Homo sapiens: one gene and its partners. The protein of the gene in region 1 interacts with the protein of each later gene in a biochemical or structural test. Each region holds a gene or a part of one and is shown on either strand. Other genes may lie near its edges.

What was found.
Region 2: the proteins of YWHAQ (region 1) and PFKFB2 form a complex in vitro, tested with the Homo sapiens proteins (one study listed by BioGRID).
Region 3: the proteins of YWHAQ (region 1) and VIM form a complex in vitro, tested with the Homo sapiens proteins (one large-scale study listed by BioGRID).
Region 4: the proteins of YWHAQ (region 1) and LMO7 form a complex in vitro, tested with the Homo sapiens proteins (one large-scale study listed by BioGRID).
Region 5: the proteins of YWHAQ (region 1) and NOLC1 form a complex in vitro, tested with the Homo sapiens proteins (one large-scale study listed by BioGRID).
Region 6: the proteins of YWHAQ (region 1) and PRKD1 form a complex in vitro, tested with the Homo sapiens proteins (2 studies listed by BioGRID).
Region 7: the proteins of YWHAQ (region 1) and CDK17 form a complex in vitro, tested with the Homo sapiens proteins (one study listed by BioGRID).

What each region holds. Positions count from the first base shown.
Region 1 is NC_000002.12:9,619,800-9,624,497, reverse strand, and holds part of YWHAQ (14-3-3 protein theta), read left to right. Parts: intron 1-4,698. UniProt on the Homo sapiens protein: Adapter protein implicated in the regulation of a large spectrum of both general and specialized signaling pathways. Binds to a large number of partners, usually by recognition of a phosphoserine or phosphothreonine motif.
Region 2 is NC_000001.11:207,062,686-207,067,383, forward strand, and holds part of PFKFB2 (6-phosphofructo-2-kinase/fructose-2,6-bisphosphatase 2), read left to right. Parts: coding exon 1-31; intron 32-457; coding exon 458-524; intron 525-661; coding exon 662-736; intron 737-1,087; coding exon 1,088-1,144; intron 1,145-2,350; coding exon 2,351-2,475; intron 2,476-2,491; exon of another isoform or gene 2,492-2,609; intron 2,610-4,698. UniProt on the Homo sapiens protein: Synthesis and degradation of fructose 2,6-bisphosphate.
Region 3 is NC_000010.11:17,230,765-17,235,388, forward strand, and holds part of VIM (vimentin), read left to right. Parts: intron 1-2,822; coding exon 2,823-2,918; intron 2,919-3,005; coding exon 3,006-3,167; intron 3,168-3,928; coding exon 3,929-4,054; intron 4,055-4,404; coding exon 4,405-4,624. UniProt on the Homo sapiens protein: Vimentins are class-III intermediate filaments found in various non-epithelial cells, especially mesenchymal cells. Vimentin is attached to the nucleus, endoplasmic reticulum, and mitochondria, either laterally or terminally.
Region 4 is NC_000013.11:75,803,830-75,807,329, forward strand, and holds part of LMO7 (LIM domain only protein 7), read left to right. Parts: intron 1-459; coding exon 460-712; intron 713-1,649; coding exon 1,650-1,931; intron 1,932-2,228; coding exon of another isoform or gene 2,229-2,432; intron 2,433-3,500.
Region 5 is NC_000010.11:102,158,376-102,163,073, reverse strand, and holds part of NOLC1 (nucleolar and coiled-body phosphoprotein 1), read right to left. Parts: intron 3,882-4,698; coding exon 3,766-3,881; coding exon of another isoform or gene 3,736-3,765; intron 3,642-3,735; coding exon 3,506-3,641; intron 3,179-3,505; coding exon 3,050-3,178; intron 2,842-3,049; coding exon 2,731-2,841; intron 2,623-2,730; coding exon 1,981-2,622; intron 1,519-1,980; coding exon 1,412-1,518; intron 1,242-1,411; coding exon 1,149-1,241; intron 964-1,148; coding exon 805-963; 3' UTR 1-804. UniProt on the Homo sapiens protein: Nucleolar protein that acts as a regulator of RNA polymerase I by connecting RNA polymerase I with enzymes responsible for ribosomal processing and modification.
Region 6 is NC_000014.9:29,578,447-29,582,578, reverse strand, and holds part of PRKD1 (serine/threonine-protein kinase D1), read left to right. Parts: intron 1-2,488; exon of another isoform or gene 2,489-2,614; intron 2,615-4,132.
Region 7 is NC_000012.12:96,288,499-96,293,196, forward strand, and holds part of CDK17 (cyclin-dependent kinase 17), read right to left. Parts: intron 790-4,698; coding exon 669-789; intron 1-668. UniProt on the Homo sapiens protein: May play a role in terminally differentiated neurons. Has a Ser/Thr-phosphorylating activity for histone H1.

The DNA of each region.
Region 1 (4,698 bases):
GCCTTGGATTAGTCCATAAATAAAATGAGCTGTATTAAGTTGTATTGGATTGTGTCATGCTGTCCTTTGGCTTCTTCCTAACGTGTTGATATCTTACCTGAACCTCTTGTCTAGCTAGACTTGTCATTTTTCCCCTTGTCATTATTGTGTGTATGCTGTTCAAACTCTACAGTTCACCTTACTGAAACTTATTCAGTGGGTCCTATTTTTTGTTTGGTTTGATTTGATTTGTTTTTATTTTTGAGACAGAGTCTGGCTCTGTGGCCTAGGCTGGAGTGCAGTTGCGCCATCTGGGCTCACTGCAACCTCCACCTCCCGGGCTCGAGCCATCCTCCCACCTCAGCATCCGGAGTAGCTGGGACTACAGGCACTTGCCACTATGCCTGGCTAATTTTTGTATTTTTTGTAGAGATGAAGTTTTGCCATGTTGCCCAGGCTGGTCTTGAACTCCTGAGCTCAAGCAATCCACCCAGAGTGCTGAGATTACAGGCGTGAACCACTGTGTCTGGCCGGGTCCTATATTTTCAAAGTGCCACTTCTTCATAGTTGTCTCCAAAGCCCTGAGCTCTTTTAAAGACTTCGCACAGACTGCAATTATATTGAAATCTATTAGATGCAGTGAAAATTGATGAACGGCAAATCTCCTCCCCTCCTTCATAGTAGCTTGGCATATGTGGTTCAGACTTTTTAAATTTAATTTTATTTATTTATTTATTTATTTTGTTGAGACAGAGTTTTGCTCTTGTTGCCCAGGCTAGAGTGCAGTGGCGCAATCTTGGTTCACCTCAACCTCTGCCTCCGGGTTCAAGCAATTCTCCTGTGTCAGCCTCACAAGTAGTTGGGATTACAGGCATGCACCACCACACCCGGCTAATTTTGTATTTTTAGTAGAGACGAGGTTTCTCCGTGTTGGTCAGGTTGGTCTCAAACTCCCGACCTCAGGTGATCCTCCCGCCTCGGCTTCCCAAAGTGCTGGGATTATAGGCGTGAGCCACTGCACCCGGCCGTGGTTCAGACTTTTAATGCAGTGGTGAACACTGTCAACAATTTTTCTCCAAACAACCCCTGGGAAGAAGATCGTTGTTGCATGCTTTATGCTAGGATTTACTTAAGTTCTCGAAGTGGAATTTCCAAATCAAAAGATGTGCGGTTTTTTCCAGATAGCCTTCTGAAAAGGTATGTGTATACACTGTCATCAGCAGTGGTTGAGAAGGTCATTCATTTCCCCTAACCCTTTCCAGCACAAGCAAGTTTTTAAGGCTAACAAAAATCTGGTGACCAGAAGGTTTAACGTCTTATCTCCTTGTTCAGTATTGGATGTATGAGGACCACCTCCCTTCTCACAAAGGACTGCTTAAGAAAACTAGTATTTTTAAGTCTCATGTAGTTTCATTTAGAACATGATACCATAGCATGGGATTAGTTCAGTCAAGGTGTTGCTTTGGCAGTTGGGAAATCTGGTTGGCTATGGTAATGTTCTCTATTTTTATCATTAAGACCAGTTTTTGTATTTAACACTAATCCTTTCCAAATGGCAACAGAAAACGTATCTGAATTCATACCACTGACTTTCTGGATATCAGGGAGGTGGTAGAGAGACATCATTTAAAAGATGTGAAGAGAAGCAAAGTTTATCCATTGCTACTTTAATTAAACTCTTAATCCATAGATAAGTCAGTGATAAATATGATAAATTACTAGATTTGAAACTATTGTTTGCATATTGAGTATTTAAAGACAAAATGATGATAATACCTAGGACTTCAGAGTAATTGGGGGAATACAGATGAAACAGGAGTGTCTATGAATTAATATAGTTGCAGCTGGCTTTAATTGGAATTCATTGTACTATTCTTTGTTCTCCTGTGTACCTTTAAAATTCCCTATTATAAGTTTTTCCTCCCCTAGAAATTCCACTCTTAGGTGTTTACGCAAGAGGGAATGATGCATGGGGCCAAGGCGCATAGGTACAAAAATGTTAATAACAGCTTTATTCTAAGAGCAGAAAACTAGAAATAATCCACTAGTAGGAAAATTGATAAACACTGATGTATTCATAAATGGAATACTATTCAGCATTAAAATGAATGGACCACTGATACTACAATATGATTGAATTTCAAAAACATGCTAGGTGAAAGAAACTTTGCATGAAAAAGTACATAGTGTATGTGATTCCATTTATATGAAATTTTAGAACAAACACAACCTGTTTATGGTAGGAAAAAAAATCAGGAATAATGGCCTCTGTGGGAGAATAGGCAGAGATTGGGAAGGGGCAGGCTTCTGGGATAATTGTATTTTTTTTTTTTTTTAATACTTTAAGTTCTGGGATACAAGTGCAGGACGTGCAGGTTTCTTTCATAGGTATACATGTGCCATGGTGGTTTGCTGCACCCATCAGCCCGTCATCTACATTAGGTATTTCTCCAATGCTATTCCTCCCCTAGCCCCCGACGCCCTGACAGTCCCCGCTGTGTGATGTTCCCCTCCTTGTGTCCATGTGTTCTCATTGTTCAACTCCCACTTGTAAGTGAAAACATGCGGTGCTTGGTTTTCTGTTCCTGTGTTAGTTTGCTGAGAATGATGGTTTCCAGCTTCATCTATGTCCTTGCAAAGGACATGAACTCATCCTTTTTATGGTTGCATAGTATTCCATGGTGTATATATGCCACATTTTCTTGATCCAGTTTATCGTTGATGGGCATTTGGGTTGGTTCCAAGTCTTTGCTATTGTGAATAGTGCTGCAATAAACGTATGTGTGCATGTGTCTTTATAGTAGAATGGATAATTGTATTCTTTAGTTGATATGGGTTTGGGTTTTATACATTTGTCAAAACTCAGCAAATGTACACCCAAGATTTGTGCATTTTGTATGTAAATTTTGCTTTGAAAAAAAACTAGTGATATGCCTGTACTTATGTCTTCAGCTTGTAACTGCTAGAAATGTATGGGTATCTGAAAAAGCAAGTATGGCAAAAGGTTAATGGTAAGATCCAGGTGGTGGATATGTGGGGGTGTTCACTGTAATTGTTGGTTGCCATGTATTGGGGGTTATGATATTTCACATCACTGGTTGAGTGTCTTTAATACATATAGCAAGAAGATAGTGTGTAGCCTGTGTCTTGTTATCCTCAAGATACGAGAATGTATAGAACGGTATTGATCCCCACTTAGGAGACATCACTGGCACCATCACTTTTTTGTTTGGGTGATGAGTGCTAAGTAGATTGATGGAGTTACCAGATGCTGTGTAAGACGTCTTAATTGGCCATACTCTGGGACAGTGGTTCACAAATTTGATCTCAGGACCCCTTTTTAGAAAATAAAATAACTTTAACAAAAAATTGAATGAGAATAGCGGCATTGCATTTCATTCAACCTATTGTAGTATTCCACCTCCTGTAGCTTCTGGAAAACTCCACTTGTGAGAAAATGACAGTGGAAAAAAAGCAAATATCTTAGACTTATGAAAGTGGTTTTACTTTGTCTCCTCTCCACCCCACAAAGGATATAGGGGAGACCTCTAGGGGTTCCCAGACTATACTTTGCCCTATGAGAATTTAATTACTGAAGTTAATAGTAGAACTGCTGTTCTACGAGAATTTTATTACTGTGTTTGGGTGATTGAGCAGTTTATTTTCTGAGTAGTCATCATATGTGGTGATAATGGAATTTGTAAAACCTTCCCCACCCTTCCCATTTCTCTGCCCCTGCACCCCATCTTATCCCTAGGAATATAGGTTTGAAGACCAGGAAAATCACAGATGTGATAATGAAGAAAGGAGAATAGTTGATATTAGACATTGGGTAATAAAAGTCCCTGTTAATTCCTGGAAACCAGCTAAAGATCTGGTATGTTGGAATGTCTTTCTGCTTTCTTGTGTTGAGAAGGATAATATGAAGTTAATAATCTCTTAACTTGCCCCTCCCAATACCTGACCAAAAAGCAGAGTTGACATCCATGAAAAATATGGATAATGGTCTTTCAGAGCTGGTTGCATTTAAGTTTTAAAAATACACAGCTTTTGGAGGCAGTAAGTCAGGTTAGCTGTTAACCAGCATTGGTCAAAGTATTTATCAGTGAAACTTGTCTTCATACCAACCTTTGATTGTCAGTTTACATGTTTTTCTATCCAGATGAGTAGTATTTCATGATCTCTTTGTCATCTGGATTTTTACTACAGTATCCAGTTGGGTTTGGCACAGTGTGGTACTAAATACATATTCTGTACGATACTCTTCATTTGAACATTCTGTCTCCTGTACCTTTGCTACAGGCTTTACTTAGAGAAATGGAAAAATAATGGTGCAAGTGGTGAGACCATGATGATAAGAACTTACATAAATTTAAATGCTTTCTTAAAGGATGGTCATAGATTGTGAACGTCATGTCGCGGTGATTGGAGGAAATAAATGGAGAAGTGTGTGAAAATGCTTTAAAGCCATAAGCTATATGGATCATCAGATTAGACATTTTATTCCTGAATAACTCTTACTGCTGTTGTTCTTCAATAATTAGTACTCCATTTTCCCTCTTGTTTTGTACATTCCACCAAACATTACTTGAATGCAGCTCACAGGATTTTTGCTCTTAAAAGCTACAGTTGTTAAACCTCTGCAGTTAAACATATTTATACTAGGTGTTCTGATCTTTCAGCCTGGTACTGTTTCCAGTCATTTGGGAATATACTTTT
Region 2 (4,698 bases), on another chromosome or scaffold:
ATGACAATGAGGAGGCCATGAAGATCCGCAAGTGAGTCTTGTTTAAGGCCTGATCTCCAGGTCAGCTCTTTCTTGGCCGTCATGAGACTTGGTGTGACAGGGCTTGGTTTCATCTCAGTAAATATCTTAAGGGGAAGTTAAATGGAAGTTATCTGATGGGCAAGTGACCTTGGGCTTGGGTGGTCAGAAGAACAGGGCTCAGGGTGATTGATACCTGTGTGCTTGTAGGAGAAGTCTAAAGAGGGCTAAGATCTGTGCATTGGGGCAGGGGCAGGAAGGGGTTATAGGATGGTGTGAAAACCCTCAGTGAGAAAGTTGAAAGATCTAGTTAGAGAAAGGTTTTGAACAGTGGGAAACTAAGTGGGCAGGGATGTGACTTCTGTAGCCACCCGAATGTTTGTGTCTCTGACTGTTTGAGCTTAGCTCTCCTTGCTGGTTTCATTTGCTCTTATGGCAGACAGTGTGCTCTGGTGGCGCTGGAAGATGTTAAGGCGTATCTCACTGAGGAGAATGGTCAGATTGCGGTAAGCTTTATCTGCTGCTTCTTCTTTCTGGTCCCCACCCTTGCAGCAGCCTGGCTACCCAGCCCCACCTTGAGTCTGCCCTGGTGGGGTTCTGTTTCTCTGTTCCTGCTCATTTACCTTGTGTACTTTCTTCACAGGTGTTTGATGCCACCAATACAACCCGGGAGAGGAGGGACATGATTTTGAACTTTGCTGAACAGAATTCCTTCAAGGTAGGATCTGACTCCATGTTGGAGGAAAAGGGATGAGTAGAGGTGGGGAGTCAGGCTACAGGCATGGATCTCTCACTCTAGTGGGTGAGGACAGGATGGGATATCTGAATCTCTTCTCTCAGAGCATTCCCCCAGTCCTTGAGTGTTTTCATTCAGGTCCTTTCTCAGACTGTTAGCCTGTATGTTTGAGGCCCAGGGGCTGTGGTAAGAGCTATGAGGAGGACTTGAGGGCCACTTTCATGAAGAAAATCCTGGGAGATGTGGTGGCTGGGTGGGGTAGATGAGCATGTGCTCTTAATTAACAGCCTGGCATTTTTGACTTGCTTATCACTGCCTTCTCTCCATGGCCAGGTATTCTTTGTGGAATCCGTCTGTGATGATCCTGATGTCATTGCTGCCAATATTCTGGTTGGTGACACCCCTACATATCATCTCCTCTTCACCTTTTGTGCTGTGTGTGTTGTGGGGTGTGTGTGTGTGTGTGTGTGTGTGTGTTGTTGGGGAGGGGTGTTTTCGTAATGAAAGAGAGAAATAGACATGTTTAACATCACAAAGAGATCTTTTCTATCTGCCAGAGCCCCATCTGGTACTTCTACACTCTTCTCTTGGGAGAGGAAACTGAGGCTTTAAGGAATCAAGTAAGAATTAGCTGTTGAATTGAAACCAGGGTTTAGGTTGTAGGATTCTTGGCCCTGTGCTCTAGGTATTATCTGGATGTTGAGACCTAGATGTTGGAATAGATCAGCCGGGCACGGTGGCTCATGCTTGTAGGCTCAGCACTTTGGGAGGCCGAGGCAAGTGGATTGCTTGAACCCAGAAGGATCACCTTAGCCTGGGAGGTTGAGGCCACAGTGAGCCGTGATTGTGCCACTGCAGTCCAGTCTTGGTGACAGAGTGAGAACATGTCCAGGGAGGTTGAGGCTGCAGTGAGCCATGATTGTGCCACTGCAGTCCAGTCTTGGTAACAGAGTGAGAACATGTCTCAAAAAAGAAAAAAAAAAAAGAATAGATCAGACTCTTCGTTTCAGGACTTACCTACAGGAAGGTTATCTCCCCAGCAATTGTCCAAAGTTCTCGTCAGTGTTCTATACATTGAGCTCCTTATTCCCTGTGGGGTCACAATGTAAGCCAGTCCCCATTGGATGGGTTGTGCTCTGCTGGACCGAGTAGATATCTGAACATGGTCTTATGCAGGTGCTCTCCCAGCCGTAGGAACTTGGGATCATCTGAGGAAGAGCCATCTGGTCCCAAGTCAGGCACTGGGGTCATGCACCCTATTCTGAGTGGTAATAGGGAAACATTGGAGCCTGTTCTGTTTTCTCAGGAAAGTACATAAAGGGATTGGGGCCCAGGAGCAGCTTTGGCTGCGTGACTGCCTCTGTCCTTCAGCCAAGTGCAGGCACATGACTCCCCAGTTGTCTTAACTTTTTTGGTTGCCAGGGTCACAGGACGGGGCGGGGCGGGGCGGGGGGTACTCAATGAGTGGAGTGCCAATGTTCCAGTGAAAGGCGACATTTATGGACTTCTTTTTCTTTTTTTTAGCAGTGGCTATTTGTAGGAGGACTGTTACGGGCAGACCTCTGATGAGGCCTTTACTGGTTCCTATGATTTCAGGAGGTTAAGGTATCAAGCCCTGACTATCCTGAAAGGAACAGAGAGAACGTGATGGAGGACTTCCTGAAGAGAATTGAATGCTACAAAGTTACCTACCGACCTCTTGACCCAGACAACTATGACAAGTAAGGTTTAAGGCCATGGTTTGAAGGGCCCAAGGCAAAGGTCTCATCTGGGAAAATAACCTTTCTCCCTGAGTTCTCTAACTTCCTTCTGATAATCTAGATCTACAGTGTTAACATCATCCCAGAGAAATAAGGTATGGATTTGTGGCTTTTATGTGGATTGCATCTTGTACATGAAAAATTGAAGTGGTTGGTTTTGTTTTGTTTTGAGACAGGGTCTCACTCTGTCACCCAGGCTGGAGTGCAGTGGCAAAATCAGGGCCCACTGCAACTGCTGCCCCCGGGGCTCAGGTGATCCTCCCACCTCAGCCTCCTGAGTAGCTGGGACCACAGGTGTGCGCCACCATGCCCGGCTATTTTTTTTTTTTTTTAGTAAAGATAGAGTTTCCCCATGTTGGCCAGGCTGGTCTTGAACTCCTGAGCTCAAGTAATCCACCCGCCTCGGCCTCCCAAAGTGCTGGGATTACAGGTATGAGTCACTGCGCCTGGCTGGAAGTGTTTTTTATCATCAATTTTTTCTCTCCAGTCTCTAGAGCATGATTTCCTCAATCTCAGTATTATTGGCACTTTGAACTGGGTAATTCTTTGTTGTAGGACCTGTCCTGTGCATTGTAGGATGTTCAGCAGCTTCCCTGGGCTTTGCCCACTAGATGCCAGTAACACCTCCAACCTGTGACAACCAAAATGTCTCCAGACATGTCAGAGGTTCCCCGGGGGGCACAGTTATCCCTGGTTGAGAATCACTGCTCCATATCTGAATGGGGGTGTTGTAGGATACCCTTTGGAGATGTGTCATCAGTTTTTAAAGTTTATATATATTATATGATATTTTACATATATTAATGCTTGTGTGTATATCATGCATATTATAGCATAACATATATATTACATATTGCATATTTTTATATCTATCTCTCTCTATATATAACATGCAAAGCCCTCAAGAACATGCCTGACTCAGAGAAATGTCTGATCAATGCCAGCTGTTGTTACTATGGAAGCATTTGTTGGCAGTATGGTGTAGACTATAGATTAACTTGTCATGTGTGAGGTATATGAGCCATAACAAAACCAAGTCTATGTTGAAGAAAGATGGTGTACACATGGAAATCTGCAAGAATGTGGCCTCATGAAAGAGCATGCATTCAGGGCAGTTAACAGCTCTATTCACATAATACAGACCTGCAGCCAAGCAAATGGCACATTTAATGTGCATGGCACACTTAATACAGTGGTCTGTTTAATGTTTTGAGCCTTTCAGTTCCTTCAAGTGGGTTTCCCAGAATCCCCTTAATTCAGAGGCTGAAAACCACCTCTAGATATGGCATAAAAGTATTCTTCAGTTGGAACAAAGTCCCACCTAGAAAAACATACAGAAGATCTACATATATATACATGTGTATGTTTGTATATGTTATCTCTGGTAGTAGGGTGATGCGTGATTTGCATCCTTCCATCATTTTTTCTGATTTTTTGATTTAAAATAAGCACTTATGACTTTTTTTTTGAGATGGAGTCTCTCGCTCTTGTTGCCCAGGCTGGAGTGCAGTGGCACGATCTCGGCTCACTGCAACCTCCCCCTTCCTGGGTTCAAGCAATTCTCCTGCCTCAGCCTCCTGAGTAGCTGGGATTACAGGCACCCGCCACCACGCCCGGCTAATTTTTTTATTTTTAGTAGAGATGGGGATTCACCATGTTGGCCAGGCTGTTCTCAAACTCCTGATCTCCTGATCTACCCACCTTGGCCTCCCAAAGTGCTAGGATTACAGGCATGAGCTACCGCATCCAGCCACACTTATGACTTTTATAAAGAGAACAATCTCATGTTGGCCTCAAAGCAAGCAATGTCTGAAAGTGTCTTTGAGAGAAGCATGATTAGGTAGATGCAGGGAGTATATAGACATTTCTGTCTGTGCTTCTGCTGCCTCTTCCCTTCCCCTCGTTGCTCGTCGTGCCATATTCTGGCCAGGTCTTAACTGCCTCAAAAGGGGCCTATTCTTCTCACCAAATTTTGGGCTTAGCAAAATCTTCAGGTCACCTAGTCTAGCCCCTGATGGGAAGGCTGAATTCTGTTTATCCTATTTATCTACATTACTTGTCACACTACAGGCACTGAGGAAATGGTACAAACTTACTAGAAGTTCAGGAAATTGTACTTCATCTTGGTTTTAAGGAGTAATTAATCTCCTACCATTTGGTTCCATAAACGTGGGTGTGACAGAG
Region 3 (4,624 bases), on another chromosome or scaffold:
CGAGCAATTCTAAAAGTTGCTTAACTCACGTCTAAAAAGTGCAAAACTTCAGGGCTGCGCGTAAAGCCCTCTAGTGGCGGGAAGACCACAGGTTGGAGCTTCTCATGATTAGAAAAATATTAATAAAACCCCTTGAGCGATTTTTTTTTTTTTTTTGAGACGGAGTCTTACTCTGTCGCCCAGGCTGGAGTGCAGTGGCGAGATCTTGGCTCACTGCATCCTCCGCCTCCCGGGTTCAAGCGATCCTTGAATGATTTCTAAGCAGTTCCTTGGGACATAAAGAAAAATCTTTTAACTTTTTACTTTGTTTCCCAAATGTTGCACAGTTTTGCAACACATTGACCTTCTGGTTTCGAACGGTTACAATTTTAGATTGTGGTTTGCCAAAGTCAAGTTGCTTAATTTTTACAAGGCCACAAAAAGCGCAATTATGCCCTGCAGTTTAAAATGGAAAACGTGTTGGAAGATAAGAAAACTTAGTTTCCAACTGGAATGGAGCCAGCAAGTTTCTTTTCTTCTTTGCAAATTCTATTGTGTCATTAAAGTTCGATGGAAGTATCACTATGCACAACTATTTTGTGATCTAATAAGGGTGAAAAGGAGCCATCTGTCCCCTTGGCTAAGGGGTATTAATGGTTTCTATGGGCTTCACTATGGAATGTAGATACAGACATTCTGGCAAATGTGGTGGCTCTGGACAGAAATAATAGGAGTCTTTGTATTCCCAGGGAAGCTTTGCAACAGGCTACATTCTTACTGAATATGTAATGATGTAAGCACGGTTCTAATTGGACACAAGTATTTGCTAACATCCGTTATCTAATATCTGGCCCAGACTTGAGAAGTAGGTAATGTAAAAAGTTTTTAAAGCTACAAGCATACCTCACATTTTAAAAGTCCTTTCTTGATTGGGTTCTTGTGTTCTTTAGCACTCTTGCCATAAAAAATAATAACAGTAATAAACCCAAGGCTGAAAAACTGAATTTTAACTAAAGGGTTTTTGTGCGTGTTTTTTTTTTTTTTCACCAAAATTAGATGGACTTACAGAATTTTTAACTTAAAATTGGAATCCAAAAGCCAGAAGATCCCCATTATAGTTTATAGTTGTATTCCCTGGAATATTTACTGGGATTAACTGCAAAGCACTCTCAGATGAATAGTGTAGTATAACATTTTGAAACTGAAATACATTTACCAAATTAATTTAACCACAGCAATGTGTGTGGTTCATTTTAGTCCTTGAGCATTTTTGATTATCATACCTGTCATGTTTTCTGCAGTGTAGTGAGTTAACATAAAACAACATCAATACAAAAGATCCTCTGTTTCGAGATTAAGCAAAATTCCTCATTCTCTTCAATGTGATAGAATACCACATTGATCTTTCTTTGGAGGTTAGTAAAATATCTTTTATGTATTTTTCAGGGCTTAACAAGTAAAAATCAATGTTTTCATCAAGTCTGATCTTTTTGTCACCCACTCTTCATTCATTTTTCCACTAAGGTGATAGAAAAGTCTCAACAGTTTAAGACCGTAAGGCTATGAACTCCAAATATAATTGCTGACAAGATAAGCAATCCTCACGCATCCTTTTGAGAGGAAATAAAATCTTAGTTGCAAGATTACATATTCTGATTTGGAATGCTGAGCTTTTTAAATGGAAATATAGAAGGACGGCTGAATCAGCAAAAATCCTTTATGTAGTTTCATTCTTTGCAAGCTTGACCAGTCATTCTGAAACAGGCTAACTGAACTGATACAGTGGCAAGTGAAAAAGACATGCCTTTACAGGATGAGTCAAAGGAGTTTTAGAAGAAAAATCCACCAGAGAAAGCCAAGCAAATACAGTTCAGAGTTACATTTCTTTTCCATTTTTTCCTGAACTGAATCTTTGGCATGCATATCCTGAATTGGGTTATTGAATATAAATCTAGCCTTGTACAATGGATGCCAGATGACTACATATTTGCTTTGGAGCCTAAGGATAAGTTTCAAAAGATTTGAGTGGAGAAGAAAAGCTAAAACTCTTGAAGCACAAGTTTCTGTTCTCCATGTACTCAAGTGTACATGAAGTTGTGAAAATTTGTCCACCTCTATCATCATGTTATTCCATGAAATTACAAAACAAATCTTAAAAATGTTGTGGCATAGATTTTCTAGATTTAAAAAGTAATTAAATTAAATGAATTACTTTATTTTTTGAGACAGAGTGTCACTCTGTTGCCCAGGCTGGAGTGCAGTGGCACTATGTTGGCTCACTGCAACCTCTGCCTCCTGGGTTGAAGAAATTCTCCTGCCTCAACCTCCCAAGTAGCTGGGACTACAGGCATGTGCCACCACACCCAGCTAATTTTTGTATTTTTGGTAGAGACGGGGTTTCGCCATGTTGGCTAGGCTGGTCTCGAACTCCTGACCTCAAGTGATCCACCCGTCTCAGCCTCCCAAAGTGCTGGGATTACAGGCATAAGCCACCATGACCAGCCTTAAAAAGTAATTTTAAAATATCACTGGTAAAATGTGGATTCAGTCATGATTGAGTGCAGTTTACCATGTGTGTGGACATTTATTTATTTTAAAATTGTCTGATCACCACCTTGAGTAAAACACAAGCAGTCACAATTAAAATATATTAGTGAGCAGGAGAAAGCACAGCATATTATAGCACTGAATGATTTATAAACCTATTCCAGGGTCATAAAATGTGTCAACGGCTTTTCTATAGTAAGGAGACTAGGTTCAGATGGTTAATCTAAGACAAATAAATGAGATAAGCCATACACTTTTACATCCTCCATGTCCTGTCTTTTCTCTGTTCAAAATAGGATGTTGACAATGCGTCTCTGGCACGTCTTGACCTTGAACGCAAAGTGGAATCTTTGCAAGAAGAGATTGCCTTTTTGAAGAAACTCCACGAAGAGGTTAGTGGAGTGACTTTCGGGGAATGAATGAGGGTAAGGCAGCCCCCACGGTTGGCAGAGCTGACCGTCTGTCTGTTCTTTTTGCAGGAAATCCAGGAGCTGCAGGCTCAGATTCAGGAACAGCATGTCCAAATCGATGTGGATGTTTCCAAGCCTGACCTCACGGCTGCCCTGCGTGACGTACGTCAGCAATATGAAAGTGTGGCTGCCAAGAACCTGCAGGAGGCAGAAGAATGGTACAAATCCAAGGTAGGAAACAAATCAGTGCGGCTTCAACCAAAGAAAAGCATTGTGTTCTCAAAACCCCATACCTGTGTGTGATTCCTAAATATCCTCTAGCTCCAATGCAAAGCTGGCTTTGACTTCTTGCTCATATTGTGTTTGCCACCACAGCCTCCCCACCACTCACATCACCTCCTTTATTTATTTATTTATTTTCTTATTTATTTATGAGACAGAGTCTTGCTCTACTGCCCAGGCTGGAGTGCAGTGGCAACATCTTGGCACACTGCAACCTCCGCCTCCCAGGTTCAAGTGATTCTCCTGCCTCAGCCCCCTAAGAGCTGGAACCACAGGCAAGCACCACCATGCCCGGCTAATTTTTGTATTTTTAGTAGAGATGGGGTTTCACCATGTTGACCAGGCTTCTCTCAAACTCCTGACCTCAGGTGATCCACCCTCCTCAGCCTCCCAAAATGTTGGGATTACAGGCATGCGCCACCACGCCTGGCCACATCACCTCCTTCAGAATAGCAGACTCTCTTCCCCCTAACCTTGCCTCCAAGTAAACCCCAATGCCATACCTTTGACCTCCACTGTGTTGAAATGAGCACTGTAGAGTGAACTCTGAAAATACTAATGTCAGTACTCCACTGCTCTTTCCCTGGCTTTCAAAACAGAAATTTAAACCTATACTGGAAGACATTCAGTGAGAAATATGATTTTTTTTTTCTAAGAGAGTCAAAAGACTTGAATGTGAGCAATCTACATTTCTGTTTTCTTCCCAACAGTTTGCTGACCTCTCTGAGGCTGCCAACCGGAACAATGACGCCCTGCGCCAGGCAAAGCAGGAGTCCACTGAGTACCGGAGACAGGTGCAGTCCCTCACCTGTGAAGTGGATGCCCTTAAAGGAACCGTGAGTACCAACCCTGCAGTAAAAGAGGGAAAATAATGACCCATTCTGCTGACTAGGCTCATGATGATACCTGAACAAAATGTTGAGTGAGTAAAAATGTATATCATAATGCAAAGAAAATGAGTTATCAAGACAGACTCAAAAGGGACTTCATGGAACTCTTGAAGGTTTTAGCTTGCCTATATCATTGCTTCTAATATGAAGGACTTGGTACTCGCATTCTCCACCTAAAATTAGAGTGGTCGCCATTTGCCGCTAATGGAAATTATTGCAGAAGGTCTGTAAATGGTTCTGGGAACAGCTGGGTTTTTCTGAGAAATAACACCAGACATCTTTCTCACCCCCTGCAGAATGAGTCCCTGGAACGCCAGATGCGTGAAATGGAAGAGAACTTTGCCGTTGAAGCTGCTAACTACCAAGACACTATTGGCCGCCTGCAGGATGAGATTCAGAATATGAAGGAGGAAATGGCTCGTCACCTTCGTGAATACCAAGACCTGCTCAATGTTAAGATGGCCCTTGACATTGAGATTGCCACCTACAGGAAGCTGCTGGAAGGCGAGGAGAGCA
Region 4 (3,500 bases), on another chromosome or scaffold:
CTCTTTCTACATCCTTCCTGATCTCTCTCCTCACATATATTATAGATAGCTGCATGCCTTATTTTAAATTACTGAGTTCTCCCAGAATTATTTTTGCATGTTGTTTTAAGTATCTGTGACTCCATTGCTAGATTTTATTTCTATGTATTACATCAACAAATCTTATGGAAAATCATGGAGGAAGAGATTGAGAAAAAAGGGGCTCACTAGTAAAATAGGACTTATTCTTCTTAGAGCCTACAGCAGCAAAAGAATGTACTGCATGTGCCTCCAGTATGCAAAGCAAGTTCCTCCTAATGGATCTTATCACAACTTCGTGACAAATTTCTAAAAATATTCCCTGCAGTTAGCAGTGGCAGCACTGGGTTTCTAAGGGAAAGACAAAGCAGGCGCGCTGTGTGGGTTTCAGTTAGGCGAATAATCTGGAGAGTAAAGCAAATTCTTGTGCCTTCTTTATAGGTTTTGAAAGTGACACAGATTCGGAATTTACATTTAAGATGCAGGATTATAATAAAGATGATATGTCGTATCGAAGGATTTCGGCTGTTGAGCCAAAGACTGCGTTACCCTTCAATCGTTTTTTACCCAACAAAAGTAGACAGCCATCCTATGTACCAGCACCTCTGAGAAAGAAAAAGCCAGACAAACATGAGGATAACAGAAGAAGTTGGGCAAGCCCGGTTTATACAGAAGCAGATGGAACATTTTCAAGGTACTGAGATGGGTGTGATTATTGAGTTTCGTATGCTTTTCGAATATGGTAGGATGTTAAATGTGGTAAAAAGAATGGCTCTTAAATGTGTTTCATAGATCATATATTAAGCTTGACTAGTGAGAATATTTTTCATCCCTCTATTTTTAGTTATACATATCTTGAAGCCATTTCTTCTGTTTTAGAATGTCAGCATATGATTTGCTAGGTCTTTTTTTAGATGCATGACTTCAGTTTATTGGTATTTTTCAGCTTACCAGATAATTTGTATTGTTCATGATGAGCCATGCCATGTAATGTTTTTCCTTTTTTGATTGATCTTAGTGGACATGAAAAGAATCCTTTAATTTCTCAGCAAATTAGCAGAACAGAGTGTGGTTTTGCAAATCCAGCTTCCTCTCATGGGGAGGCGTACGGTTTTGAAAGTGGTTCGGACTCTGAGGATGAACGAAGGTTTCCTGACATAGTTTTGGATGACTTAGCCAACCGTAGATTCCAAGTGAAAAAGAGGCCCCAGAATTTCATCTCGAAAATCACCTATCCTAATTCTTGTCCGCAAATATTTTCTCCTGCTGATATGTTTGCCATGGGGCTATATGGACTGACGAGGTCAGAAATACTTGTCCTGGATCTGGCTGTCTATTATGCTGCTGATTTTAATTCAGAAAGTAACACCCCAAATTGTTTGTTATGTGCCTCTTCCTTTTAACACAGCTTCTAATGAAGTATCTTTGGCCCGTGTGTATCTAGCTATCCTTGAGTTAAAATGAGATGCTGTTATAATAACTTTGTCCTAGGAGCTGTGGTGGTGATGAGAATGGAAACTAATTTGCTTTGTTCACAGTGGTGTAAACTTTGTGAACCAGAAAGCATGCCATTTGTGTTCTGTGTCACAAATGCTCATACAGTGTCTTAACCGGTTGGATGTTTTGAACAGTAATCAGAGGAGGATTTGGGGCACCAATGTGGAGAACTGGCCAACTGTACAAGGAACTTCAAAGTCCTCTTGTTATTTGGAAGAGGAAAAAGCAAAGACAAGAAGCATACCCAACATTGTAAAGGATGATCTTTATGTGCGCAAGCTCAGTCCAGTCATGCCAAACCCAGGGAATGCTTTTGATCAGTTTCTTCCCAAATGTTGGACCCCAGAAGATGTGAACTGGAAAAGAATAAAAAGGGAAACTTATAAGCCATGGTATAAAGAATTTCAGGGATTCAGGTTTGTCGTTGTGCATGTTTCTGTCACACCAGTGTTCATTCAGTACCCCAGCTGGGGTTCTATGTGCATGTTTTTTATAATAATAAGAGAGACAGAGAAAGTCTAATTAGTTCTCTAGTATCTGCGGAACCTATATAATGGAAATGAATTTCTGTTTAAATTTAAACCTGAGGATCTAGATCTTAAAAAGCCCTGTTCTATACATAGTCATAGCACGGCATTATTTTTAGTAGTTCTGTTTTTCTCCAATTCTTTGTCTCATTCCCTCTTCCCTTCTTTTCTTCATGTCACTCACAGTAGAAGGAATTCAGACTCTGAGGATGAGGACTCAGGTTCTGACAGAAGCGCCACCGTTTTTAGTAGAGCACAAAAAGCAGAGCATAGGCTAGACGGCAACTGCCAAAGACCTTCACTCTTGCTGGAATTAGCTACCAAACGGGCTGTAAAATCACCGGACTCCCATGCAGCCAGGAGAAGCAGTAGTGCTTCGGATGAGCCCAGGTGCCCCTGTCTGCATGAGCCTGCCTGCTGCGGGTCTGGCCTCAGACAACCCTCTGCCTGCTTCTGCTGCTCCATTAGCCTGGGACCTGATTGCACTGAATCAGGAAACCTGACTCACTTAGTGGACTTAGTACAAAAGCGTAATGTATAACACGCTGCTTTCTGTGCAACTACATCAGCTTGGAAGTCTGTAGGATTCAACATTCTTCTTTAGCACAATAATGTGTGAGACAGGATATATTTACATGTGGCAGTTCTTTTGAAAAGCCGGTTCAAAAAGGCTTGTTAGAAAGTTTACCTAATTTCACGGTTTTGTTGTGTGTGGAGATGTGGAAAAAGGAAATAACTTTCAGGTGGAGACTGGGAAGGGCAAGTCTAGGGAAAATGCAAAGGGAAGATTCCTTGAGCTCTTTTATAAAACTTCAGAGCAATTTATTTTCCCTTTTTCCTGCTGATTACATATACCTATTGCATAAAGTGCATGATGCACAACTTGTGAAACTTTCAAAGATTATTCCTTCTTCTTCAGGGGACACTTAGGCCACTGTGGCAAATGGAATGAGAAAGGGATACCAGGGGCCAGGCGGGGTGGCTCACGCCTGTAATCCCAGCACTTTGGGAGGCCAGGGCAGGTGGATCACTTGAGGTCAGGAGTTTGAGACCAGCTTGGCTAAAATGGTGAAACCTTATCTCTACTAAATATACAAAAATTAGCCAGGCATGATAGGGGGCCCCTGTAATCCCAGCTACTCGGAAGGCTGAGGGAGATGAATTGCTTGAACCCAGGAGGCGGAGGTTGCAGTGAGCAGAGATGGCGCCACTGCACTCAGCCTGGGCGACAGAGTGAGACTCTGTCTCAGAACAAACAAACAAACAAACAAACAAAAAACAGGGTACCAGGGAGTGGCTTTTGTGTGTGCCTGGGAGGGGTACCTAGTCCATGCTCCAGCCCCATCCGTGGCCTCCATGGTGCCCAACTTTCCTGAGAAGTATGCTCTGCTCTTATTTCTTTAGGGATTATCCAGGAAAGTCATGGGTGTTGGATTAAATGCTAGTCTGTTTTCCTAG
Region 5 (4,698 bases), on another chromosome or scaffold:
TAGGAAGGGTCAAGTTGTCAAAAAATGTCTTTCAACAGTAGAAAAGTTTGCTTTCAAATTAAAAAACAAAGCACGTATTGCAAACATCGTGTAATGATAAAATTACAGAAAAAAATATATTCAGAATGACCCATGGCATTCACGCCATACCAGAATTTTGCCTGTAACAAAACAGAGAATTTTATCCCAAAAAGTAGGTTAGGTCCATGCTGGCTAAAAACTTCAGTCCCAGACCCAATAAATGAGGATGAAATACATAGTGCATGCTTAACAGACATTGCATATACATCAACAATTCTTTAATGCCCCTCTCTAGGGTTTTGAGGGAAGGAGGGATGAAATGTGGACATGTGCACTCACAAAGGCAGAATTTTCTTCCTATTATAAAAAGTCACACGTGACCCTTTACTATGTTTTGGGCAATAGCCAAGATTTTATCTGTGGGAATCCACCTTTGAAAATCACAACAAAAATCAATAGTAAGTGATTTAATATAAAATATACAAATTTCTCAGTATGAGGACTTTCACAGAAAAGGAAGGAGACAACAATGAAAATGAATTTTCTTAAAAAATAACATTCCCTTATTTTGTCCCTGCTACTCAACACTCAAAAACAAGTCTGTACAAAACTAGGAACACAGAAAAGGACCAGAGAGGATGTTACACTGTAAAGTCTTAGGACCTACTCTAAACTTCTGTCCTCATCAAGACCCTCACCTAGAGACCTGAGGGTTCCCAGGTCCACTGGAGAAAGTAAGTAGTCTCCGATCATCACCCTTGCTTCACCGAAGATGGCCTCAGGTCACTCGCTGTCAAACTTAATAGAATTGACCTGGACAGAGATTGAGCCTCCCCGGTAGCTGCCCCGCTTCTTCTTGGTTTTCTCATGCCGAAAGGACTTGCCTTTGGTGAACTTCAAAACCTGATTGGCTCGCTCTCCCCAGTCTCCGGCTGCACCTCGCTGGTAAGTAGAGAGGGAGATTAACACAGAGGAGGACCATGCTGGAGCCCTGTCACTTTATTCTTTCTACTCCCTGCTCAAGGAAACCTGAACCCAGAGAAGATTCCCACCAACCTGAACCAAGAATTGTCCTCTCTGACACTACCCATCCTCCCTCCCAAGAATGGCACAGATCTCTCTCTCACCTTGGCATCAAAGGAGTTGTCCGCAACTCGTGAATCCACCTCAATTTCCTCCTCCCTGACCCTTCGGAATGGGGATGATGCCCTTTTTTCTCCCTACAGAAGAATGAAGTAGGAAATTAAAGACAGAGTGGTCATGTAACAGTTCTCCTGAGTGATACACATGGGCACATGTACCAGGTCACGCCAGGCAGAGCTGTCAAGATGATCCTAGATTTTTCTACTTTTAAAGAGCTGGCTCCTGAGAAGAAAGTGAGACAACTTACTTTCTTCCTTTTTGGAAATGTGTTAGGGGTCTGAAGCTTTATCTTCTTGGCCTGAGGAGTCTCTGCCTCCTTGGCAGCCTCATTCTGCTTCCGCTTCTTTAATGAACCTACAAAACAAAAAGCCAGACTCAGGCCGAGTACAGTGGCTCACAACTGTAACCCCAGCATTTTGGGAGTCCAAGGTAGGAGGATCGCTTGAGCCCAGGAAATTCAGATCAGCCTGGGCAATATAGTGAGATTCTGTCTCTATAAAAAGTTAAAAAAATGAGCCAGACATGGTGGTGCATGCTTGTAGTCCCGGCTACTCAGGAGGCTGGGGTGGAAAGATCACCTGAGTCCATGAGGTTAAGGCTGCACAAGCCGTGATCATGCCATTGCACCCTGGTCTGGGTGACACAGTGAGACTCTAATAAAAAAAAAAAAAGGTAACCAGTTTCCTGTTCTTCCTCCCAGTTTCCACAACTGGAAGCCCAGTGGTGGGCCTCCTCTCACTACCCTACTCTCAAAGAGTATATCCCATCCTGATTTGGGGGGACAAAACCCAGAGGGCATGTTCATTGGGTACAGACCTGATTTGGAAACTACCACTGCCGCCTTTTTCTTTTCTTCTTCCTCCTCCTCACTGTTCTTAGCTGCTTTTCCATTCTGGGCAGTCAGTGCAGAGGTGCCATTGGCCTTGGGGGCTTGTGGTCTTGGAGAGCCCTTGCCCTTGAGCTTCTCTTCCTCTTCCTCACTGGAGTCATCAGAAGAAGAACTGTTGCTGCTCTCAGCCTTTCCTTTCTTTGCAGAGGCTGGCTTGGAAGGGGCTGCACCTCCTGCTACCTTCTGTGGCTTCTTCTTAACTGCAGACTTAGATGTCTTCTCTTCCTCCTCCTCACTGCTGGAGCTGTCTGAATCAGAGCTGCTGTCCCTACTACCCTGAGGAGCCTGCTTGGCAGGCAGAGATAGAGCTGCTTTGGCAGTCGCCTTGGGCTTAGTGGTGGCCACCATCTTCTTTGTCTTCTCCTCCTCACTGGAGCTGCTCTCTTCCTCACTGGAGCTGCTGTCAGCCTTTCTCGTCAGAAGCTTCTGGCCACCGCCCACAGGTTGCTTGGGGGCTGCAGCTGGCTTCACTGCAGGTGACTTGGTGGTGACAGCTGGCTTATTTGAAGAATTCTTGGTGGTACCAGCTGGCTTAGAAGGAGCTTCATCATCCTCAGAGCTGTCAGAGTCTAGACACAGAAGGGATGGAATCAACAGCTCCCCAAATTGGATTCAGGGGAGCCCTTAGCAGCTGCCTGAGAGCATCTCACTGAACTGAGGGCCTCCATATGCCTTACCTGAGCTGTCTGAAGAGCTCTCTGCTGCTTTCTTTGCTGGAGGTGGTTTAGTGGTTGCTTTAGAGACTACTGCCTTAGTTGGGGGTTTCTTCTCTTCTTCAGAACTTGAATCTGAGGAGAACCTGTAGCATTATGCTGGGTCCAGAGTCCCAACCCAACCAGGACAGCAATAAAAAGAATGCAAAGACACGCACAGAGCCTTAGCTCTGTCTTGCTTTAAGCAAAAAGCAACCGAAGGATGGAAGGCTTTCTCTCTCCCTTATTCCTCATCCCCTCCTCCAGACCCACGCTGAGGGGAGGCTGCATCCCTCTGACTCACCAGACTCATCACTGCTGTCTTCACTGCTTTCCACAGGCTGCTGCTTCTCCACAGCCTTCTTGGGAGGCTGGGTTCCCAGAGACTTCTTTGGTGGGGGAGCAGAAGGCGGGGGGACTGAACTGTAGGGACCTGTTTAAAAAGGATAGTGTGATGGTTTTAGGATATGTCTACAACTTTTTTTGATACTACTTTCTTGTAGAAATGAAGCTTAATTCCCCTTCACTTGAGTATGGGCCAGAATCAATGACTCAGTTCTAACAGAACATGGTGTCACCTCTGAGTCTAGGTTACACAAGGCACTGGAGATTTCTCCTTGCTTTCCTGGATCACTAGTGCTCGGAGAAGCTAGCTGTCATGTCATGAGGACGCTCATGCACCTCTATGGAGAGGTCCATGTGGTTACTGCAGCTGGGCCCTGACCACAGTCACACAGCTTCGCTCCCCATGTCCAGTCACCTGGTTTATTTTTCATGGGTTTTTTTTGCTCCTCTTCCTCGTCACTGGAGGAATCCTCACTGCTAGAACTCTTCCGGGTAGGGGTGGTAGCTGCTTTCACTGGGGCCTTGGCCACAACTTGCTTTTTAGGTACAGTCTGCATTAGAAAGAAAATTGATTACCACAGGAAAATGCTGACCCAACCAATCCTGCCAGGGAAGGAAGACACACACACATCACACCCTGGTCACCTCTGCCCTGACAGAAGTTATGGTCCAGACCTTCTTGGGGGTGGCTGCTGCCTTCTCCTCCTCTGAGTCATCACTGCTACTGCTGCTGCTGCTGCTACTGCTGCTACTGGCTGCTTTACCATTGGCTATTTTAGGTGCTGCTCGAGCTGGAATACCCAAGAAAAAGAAAGAGTAAGGAGTATTAGGGCAAGTCAGGACCATGAAAAACCTCCTTCCTATGAGCAGAGAACTTAGGAGTCCACCATTTTTTTTTTTTTTTTTTTTTTTTTTTTTGGAGACGGAGTCTGGCTCTGGCTCTGTTGCACAGGCTAGTGTGCAGTGGTTCAGGCAACTCTCCCGCCTCAGCCTCTGGAGTAGCTGGGATTACAGGTGCCCACCACCATGCCCAGCTAATTTTTATATTTTTAGTAGACACAGGGTTTCGCCATGTTGGCCAGGCTGGTCTTGAACTCCTGACCTCAAGCAATCCGCCCGCCTCAGCCTCCCAAAGTGCTGGGATTATAGGTGTGAGCCACTGTGCCTGGCCAGGAGTCCACCAATTCTTTCAACTTTAGAGCAGCCATCGAGGAGAATGCCAGCCATGGTTTACCACATCAAAGGATACCTTTCCTATCCCATGGCAGGAATAAAACTGTCTTCTTAGAAAAGATGACATAAATAATCTCAATACGCCCTCTAAAATCTTTCACTTCAACCTCCATTCAGAGAAATAACCTAACCCTCATCACAAGTTACAGAAAAAAAGAAAAATTCTCATTTGTCTCATAGAATGAACATACAAGAGTAAAAATGGCAGTGAAAAGCACAACAAATAGATATTTAAGTGATTACAGTGGAATGGGATGTGTGAAAACATAAAATGTCTATGAAATGTCACAAAATACCAAATGGATACCATTAAAAAAAATACACATTTTTTCTTGCTGCAATAACTTTCTCTATTTACTAGCTCCTATGAAATCT
Region 6 (4,132 bases), on another chromosome or scaffold:
ATCACAAAAGTGCACTCAATAGCAGCTATGAGATGGGTAAATGTTCAGAGCTGGACACACTACATATTGAAGAAACTAACAGATGTGCTTTTAGAGCCGTGGTAATTTTTAATAAATCATAGATAAAATGAGAGAGATACCAAGGTATTTAAGACAAGTAGAACTTCTAAAAGGGGGAAAGAATGGATTCTGAAATTATTCAACAAGAAGCTCGATAAAATGAGAGAGATACCAAGGTATTTAAGACAAGTAGAATTTCTAAAAGGGGGAAAGAATGGATTCTCAAATTATTCAACAAGAAGCTCAGTATTTATCCTTGACAAAATTCTAGAATGAATGAATGATTAAATAGATGATTTGCAAATATTTAGAAAACAAATCTTGGCCCTGAGAAGAAAATGACTGAAAGTCAGTATTTGTCAATGTTAATTTACTTAAAATGTATTATTCCAGAATAACTGCACTTTTTTTTAAGTAGGATTACCAGATTGGTAGAATGAGTCTTACCAAGAACTGATGTGTCTCAATGATAAAGCATTTGAAAAAAAAAATAGCCTAAAATAGCCTTTGGAGAAGATGGTAAATATGAGCTACATAGGAATACTTCTAGGAGGAAGCACTGCCTGCTTTTAAGACTTGCTCAAAGAATAATTAATAGGCCTGGCAGTTGGTAATGTGTTTTGTGATAGAGTCAGAAAGCCCTATGTTTAGGCCTTATCCTGAAAAAAGTTCTAATAATTGTATTAATACATAGCAGATGGGCTTATTCGGTGTGAGCATGACAGAAAGCTAGGAGAATTAACGATATGAGGCAGAGCTATGGTCACAGAGATGTACATACACATACACACACATCCTTGCGTTCAAGCACATAAAAGTGTGGTGGAAACATAACTAAGAATGTAATTATCATGACTGTAAAAATAAAATGTTAATTTTTGAGATAATTATCCACTTACAATGATAAGTTAATGGCATAATATGGCTGCAGTCTGCCATAGTGTTTAAGAGCACAGGCTTTGAATTCCAGTCCCCCTGGGTTTCAAATTCAGCTGTATTGCCTAGGAGCTGTCTGACTTTGACCAACTTACATGGCCTTTTGAAGCGTCACGTTTTCCTTTTATTAAAATGGAGATTAAAATAATAACTACTTTCAGGGGGTTGTTATAAGGACTAAATAAGAATATGAATGTAATTTTTTAAAAAAGAATGAAAACCCCTCAATCCTAGACTATATGAATAATATATTTGCGTATAATTCAAATTGGCAGTTAGTGAGGAAAATGTTGGTCAGTGATGATCACTGAATTTTAACAGGGACATTGAGTAGAGCTAGTGACTATTAAAATCGAGGTGTACAGGAGGACTAAGCAGGCTGAAAGATCTGAAGGAACTATAGAGGTGAGATTAAGGGGAATGAATCACTGTCTCCAAAGATGTAAAGAACTGTCATATAGAATAAAGTTTTCCATTGCATCTAAAACATAAATAGGACTAATGACAGTAAGTTATAAAAAGAAAACACTTTTTTTTTTTTGCTTTGAGTAGGATATGAATTAAAGGTCAAAGATTCAGAATGGTGTATTGTGTCATGATGTCATCTGTGGTCTGGGGAGGGGCATGCATGTGCCTTTGCAACTAGATTGTGAGCTTTTCGGGGTCAGGGCTTGATCATTAACTTTTTATTTCATAAGTAATTGCCAACAGGAATTAAGGAAGATTTGGTGAATGAACAGATAAATGAATGATTTATACATACATAATACATCTGAGACTATTTTATTACATGAATATTGTATCAATGTAGACATGGCCAGTAAAGAGAATATTGGAAGGAAAAAAGCCTCTAAACTGTGTTCAAAAATGTTTAGTAAAACGCATTTTGGATGGTATAGTTAATGCTGGATTGTATACAACTTGATTAATAAAAAGGATATTTTAAGAGTTCCAGAAAAGTAACAAGCAGAACAGAATTCTCAACTACAAATGACGGACCTATTTTCTCACTAATACCGTGGTCCCAACATTTAGCTATAGGTGCTAACATTTAATAGTTCATTATTTCTGTTGTGTGCTTCCAAAAGCCACAAAATGTATGTATACACACACACACACATTTATTTATACATACACGTTTCTCCTCTAATTCTCTCCTTATATCCTTAACCATTTTCTCTTGGAAGTAGTTGCCATTGCCTTGTTGTGCTTACTCAGGTCACTTGGGTTGGGTACTGTGGCGTAGTCAGACTAATGATTGTATGCTTCATTCAGCAGAACAATTTTTTCATTTTTACTTATTCCATTCCCTTCAGACACTTCTAGTTTCCCCTCTGATAGTACTTCCCTCCCCATTATGCAGTGTGGTTCACTGTTGGGGCCCATTTGGGCACAAACGAGACCTTTTGTTGAGTTACTGTACTCCTGCCTTTCTAATTACAGAATTCCAAACAGAATGAGTGAATTAATGACATGAATTTATTTCCTGCAGTGTCTAGGGCAGTGTAATGCTGCAGCAAGCTTGCAATAGCACATAAGCTCTCCCTTCACTCCTTGTCCTCCATTTTTGCCGGGTGACTTCACAGCAGCAAGAATGGAAGGTGCACTTTACTCACCAGTGAGTAAATCATGTGAATGGATATTTTAAAGCACATGCCCTATACGCAGTTCACAGAACTATACTTTTAAAAGCTCTCTGAGAACACATGCTTGGAATATGAAAATGTACTGAGTACTGTATTTCTTCAGGTATCCTAGGTAAGGCAAGAGTGTATAGGCATAGGCAACATTTAAATGTGTGTTGTTGCATTTCATTTCTCCAAATAATTGTTTGATATTTGACTCTACAGCCCTTCAGGGCAGGCAAATACTTGTAACATTAGCTCCATAGAGATATGGTTCTCAATTACCAAAAGACTGTAGAAGTCACTTTTCTTTGCCTGACACTGGGAAGGATTCTGATTGAAGGAAGCAGTCTTTGTTCCTCTGGTCTCATGTGACAGTCTGTATCTTCAGGTCCATACAGGTTGATGCACACCAAAAAGTGGATTCAAAGCTGCCTATTCAAGACTTGGTGATAGGGAAAGATGAGGAGTTAATTTTCATTTTCGTTTATCAGCTGCCTGTTTGATTAAGATTTTTGGTAGGAAGAGCCATCTTTCAGACATAATGCCTAGGGTAGGTTAAGGGCAAAAATTAACTCTTTGAAATATAAATGCTTCCTATTAGGTTGGCAGATTTCACTAAGCTCTTTTTGGGAAGAAAATGCTAAAATTCAAAAAGAGAAACATGGAAGTTATTACAAGAATGAGAAGTGTGAGGGAATGACTTTAATAAATAATGAACTATTAATGACGTATACTGAAAATATAATGTCCAGAAAAGGAGAGTGAGAACTCCATCACATGATACTGTGGGTAACTAGGATGATTTTCAGACTAGATAACGATGAGTATTACTTTTTCTTCATAAATTACACTCACAGACTCCCCAGTCACAAGCAGAGTACTAGGCCAGAGGGATTGTGGTTCTAACCCCTCAGAGAACATTTCTTGTTAAATAGACTTCTTTCCTGTCTTCCTCTAGAAAGTCTATGAAGGCTGATATAATTCCAATACATTGGTTATTTTTGAAAGCAAAAGCAAAGTGAAAGCAATTAAAGTGTTTTCTTCTTGGGCTGTTGGTTTTCAGGCTCCAAGTTTATCATGAGATATGACCCATGTTATGATGCATTTTTTCCATACAAATATGATGTTCAGATATCTGTCATTTAATTCAATACTGTGTGAACCATTGTGTGTATTCAAACGTTCAGCATGTTTTATAACAAAATTAGTAAATGCTTTATCTTGAATATTAGTTTTATCCTGCCCATATTGTAAGACATATTTAAATGATGTACATATAAACAAAATTTCTAAATTAAAGAAAGTGTTAAAGAGTAGACCAATTGAAATTCATATCATACAATAGACTCTAATACTTCTTCCATAATTACTTCCAACTTCTTCTTTTTTTTTTTTTTTTTTTTTTTTTTTTAGTATCCAAAATAAAATGAAGGCCAAAGTTTCAGTATTCTTAAGAGGATTTTTTTTTTTGGTTCTAGTGCCTTGTCACTATGCTGCATTTAACTGTG
Region 7 (4,698 bases), on another chromosome or scaffold:
GAGATATAGTGAGTATGCCATTTTGCTAAAAGGGAACATTTGTGTTGAGAAACAGTCTGAAATAAGTTGGAAAAGGTAGTTTAGAGACATCTTATGGAAATCCTTAAGTATCAGATTGAGGAATTAATTGTACCTTATTCTATAGGTAATGAAGGGGGTGGCAATAACGGTGTCTGAGTAGAAGAGTGTCAGGATCGAAGCGGTGTGTGAGAAAGATGACTACAATATTTTGATTATTACTTTTAGTTCAAGTTAAAGCAGAAAGATTTTGGTGAATATTAAATGATGATAAAATGATAATTTTGTTTTAAATTACTATGTATCAGATACTCTTGAGTGTCTCATAAAGCACTCTTCTGAGTGTTCATTTAATCTTAACATCACCTACAACACTTCAAAGTAGTTATTGTTACTATTCCCATTTCCTTAAATGAGGAAACTGAGGCAAAGGCCAGTAATTTGAATAAAGTTAACACATAGTTCTAAATGGCAGAATTGGTATTTAAACCTAGGTAATCTAATTCCCATGCCAGAACTCATTAATCACTGTTACATTATGGCTCTTTAAAATAATATCTCCTTAAAAGTATATACTTATCAATACATCTTGCATTAACAGTTACATTCTTTCAAAATTATAAATGTCAGTGACATCTGTATATATTTACCACATGTCAATCTGTGTTGAGTACTCCGAGGAACCAAGAAGCACATCAGGTGGCCGGTACCATAGTGTGACAACTTCATTTGAGTAGGTCTTTGTGGGAACTGACTTGGCTCGGGCTAGTCCTTCATAGGGAAAATAAAACAAAGGGTTAAGAAAAAGCTTTAATGGATCTCTCAGACCCTATTCTCACCATGACTCCATTCAAAGGGATGCCTGAAATGGTTAATTCGTAGCTTCTTGAGGCTTCACCACTATTAACTTTATGAATTCGTTGAGTGCATGTGGCCCTAAGTAAGCAAATCCTTACATAGTTGAACTAAACAAGAATTCCACAACCAGAGACTGTGCTTACTTTTATGTTTGAATACACCTGGTGAAGTATTCTGGGTGAATCTAAACTTAAGATGTTTTCCTTCTGTCCATGAATCATGATGACAAAATTATTTCTCAGCTGCAATTAAATTAATCCATAATAGGCCAATGACATTGAGATACACAATTTTACTTCTAACGGCTATGAGCTTTTGTCACCTTTTAACCTGATTCCAACTTTCATTTGCTATACCATTTTTTATCAAAAACTGTAAAGTTATTGGTCCATAATCTCATTGAGATTTACTGACAAATCGACTTAGAGACAATTTCCTTGGAATAAAATTACAGTGCTGTTCTGTACTCCCTTTTTAGGTTGTAAGTTACATGGATCATTCTGGAGTAAGACAGACTTCATTGTCCTTGGATATTATTAATTGCTGTTTACGTCAGGGGTGTCCAATCTTTTAGCTTCCCTGGGCTACAATGGAAGAACTGTCTTAAGCCACACATAAAATACACTAACACTAACAACAGCCATGACCTTTAAAAAAAAAAATCGCAAAAAAATCTCATAATGTTTTAAGAAAGTTTACGAATTTGTGTTGGGCTGCATTCAAAGCCATCCTGGGCCATATATGGCCCATGGGCCATGGGTTGGACAAGCTTGCTGTAAGTGATATAAAACATTTGCCATTCCTTTGCTAATTTAATATGGAATCTATTGATAATCCAGAAATAAAGGCTAGAGTTTACAACTTTATCTCTTGAGTCACTAGTGTGAGAGAGTCGCTATTACCTCGAAGCCTCTAAATTATGATCTGAAGAAGCAACTTTAAAAAATATCTGGAAAATTACAAATTTATTTTGCCAAAACAAGGAAGAATTTATTTTTTAGGCTGAGATTGCTGTTATATATAACTTGGTATATCTGATTAAAATATTAAAGAAAAATGTCACAAAAGAAAAAATCAATTTTACTGAATAAGGTTACAGAAACAATGTCAGAAATTTAATTAGGCAGGACTCATATACTATTTCAGTTCAGTATAATGGTGAAAGGTTATAACTGGAACAATGTTGACATTCCTTCATTTAATTACAAGTTTTACTCTAGCATCTCAACTTGGTGAAGTAAGTCCAACAAATTATTTTCATACCAATTTTGGTAATTAATTAACAAGATGGAGGTAGCTTTCTGACCTCTCTTCTTGATATTAAAAGTGGGTTATAGGAAGGCAAAGGACAGGGCTGCAAACGTGCTTATCCTGTAACATACCATATCAAGGCAAATTACCAGTTATAGTTTCCTCAGTATCCTACTCTCCCACTCCTGAGAGGATTCCGAACTATGGTGTTTGTGTACATGGCCTTCTAGTTCACAATTAGAATTTCAATACTGGTTGGAATGAAATGAAACAATCTCTCCTAAACAAAATTAATTAAATGTGATATGGTATTATTATATAAGCCATTTTCTATCATTAGTGAAAATATCTGTCTATATCACTAGTTCCTAGACTTCTGATTTTCACTGATCGTGGGAAAAGGGTAGAATTTTCAGAGGGACAGAGAACAACTTATAGTATAAATACTCAAAGTTATATGACCCTCCTTCACAAGAAGTCATATTTACTATGCAACCAAAAAAAAAAAAAAAAAGGAAGAAATAGAGACAGAATTGAATATACTATCTCATGGAATAATCAGAATTTCTTGTTGCCTTGTGGGTAAAATTTGCCTGGCTTGCATTGTAGAGGTTGGAAGCAAAATTTAAAGCACTCAGAGTATTCCCTGATAAAAGTAGTTGTTGTTTTTTTCTTCCTCTTTTTGAGACAGGGTCTTGTTCTGTCAACCAGGCTAGAATGAAATGGCTTGATCATGACTCGCTGAAGCCTCAACCTCCCGGGCACAACTGATCCTACCATCTCAGCCTCCCAACTGGCTGGGACTAGAGGTGCACACCGCCACACCTGGCTAATTTTGAAATTTTTTATAGAGGCAGGTTTTTGCCATATTGCCCAGACTGGTCTTGAACTCCTGAGCTCAAGCAATCTGCCTGCTGGGCCTTCCAAAGTGCTGGGATTACAGGTGTCAGCAACCGCACCCAGCCAAAGGTAAATTTTTTATAGTCCTTGACATTCCTTTTGCTTTTTTTTTTTTTTTTTTTTGAGATGAAGTCTCGCTCTGTCATGCAGTGGCATGATCTTGGCTCACTGCAACCTCCGCCTCCCGGGTTCAAGCAATTCTCCTGCCTAAACTTCCCAAATAGCTGGGATTACAGGTGTCCGCCACAATGCCCAGCTAACTTTTCTATTTTGAGTAGAGACAGGGTTTCACCATGTTGGTCAGGCTGGTTTTGAACTCCTGACCTCATCTGATCCACCCGCCTTAGCATCCTGAAGTATTTCTCTTCACTGCCATTCATTTTGGGATTGGGAATAAAGAGCATTACATGCAGGTTAGCAAACAAAGAGAAGGAGAAGGAAAAAGAGTGAAAAGGAAATAGTGGCTGGGGGAAGGAAAGAGAAAGAAAAAAGAGAGAGAGAGTAACAATTATTATAAGGGAAATAACAACATAAACTATGCCCAAGAAGAGACTTTATGAAAGCATATGTAAATAGCATATAATTTGTTATTCAAACACAGGTAACCCACACATTTCCTTTTTAAGGAAGGAAATGCAAAAAGTAATTTACTCTTCAAATGGCAAAGTATTAAACGAGCAAAAGTATAGGAATTTCCAGAATAAACTCACCATTTAATGACAGTGAAGAGTAATACTTGAAACACTCATATTTATTAAATTTAATGAAATACTCCAAACATAAAACTACCATAATCAAAGCCAGGTGTGATGGCTCACACCTGTAATCCCAGCATTTTGGGAGGCCAAGGCAGGCAGATTGCTTGAGGCCAGGAGTTCGAGACCAGCCTGAACAACATGGTGAAACCCCATCTCTACTAAAAATACAAAAATTAGCTGGGCGTGGTGGGCACCCCTGTAATTGCAGCTATTTGGGAGGCTGAGGCACCAGAATCGCTTGAACCCAGAAGGCGAAGGTTGTAGTGAGCTGAGATTGCACCACTAGACTTCAGCCAGGGTGACAGAGCAAGACCCTGTCTCAAAACAAACAACCAAAAAACTACCATAATCATTTATGAAAAAAAATTATGAATTTAGTTATGGAAAACTGCATGGGTTTTTAAAAACTAAGTTCTCTAAGAGTATTCAAACTCTCAGAATGCGGAATACAAAAAATTCAAAGCTGCTCTACAAAGTTCCTTCAATATGAAAAAGTTTACTTTCTAGAAGCAAAAAGAGCATTTAATTTTACTTTCAATTCCCTTAAAACCAGATTAGCTAAAAAAAAAATAGATAAATAGCTACAATTAAATTACTGAGCATATAATAAATACAGAGTAATGGTGGCAGGTATATTAAGGGAACGCCTTTCAGTAGTTGCTTCTAAACTCATTGTTCTCAAGACCCATTTTATACTCTTGAAAATTATCAAAGACCTAAAGAGCTTTTATTTTTGTGGATATATTTACTGATATTTGCCACATTAGAAATTAAAACTTAGCAAATTTTAAAATATTATTTTCTCTTTAAAAACACCACCCTTTATATGCAGCATGTATGACATTTTTATGAAAAACATTTTTTTTATAAAAACAAAACAGTAAGAAGAATGGCCTTCTTTCACATTTTTGTA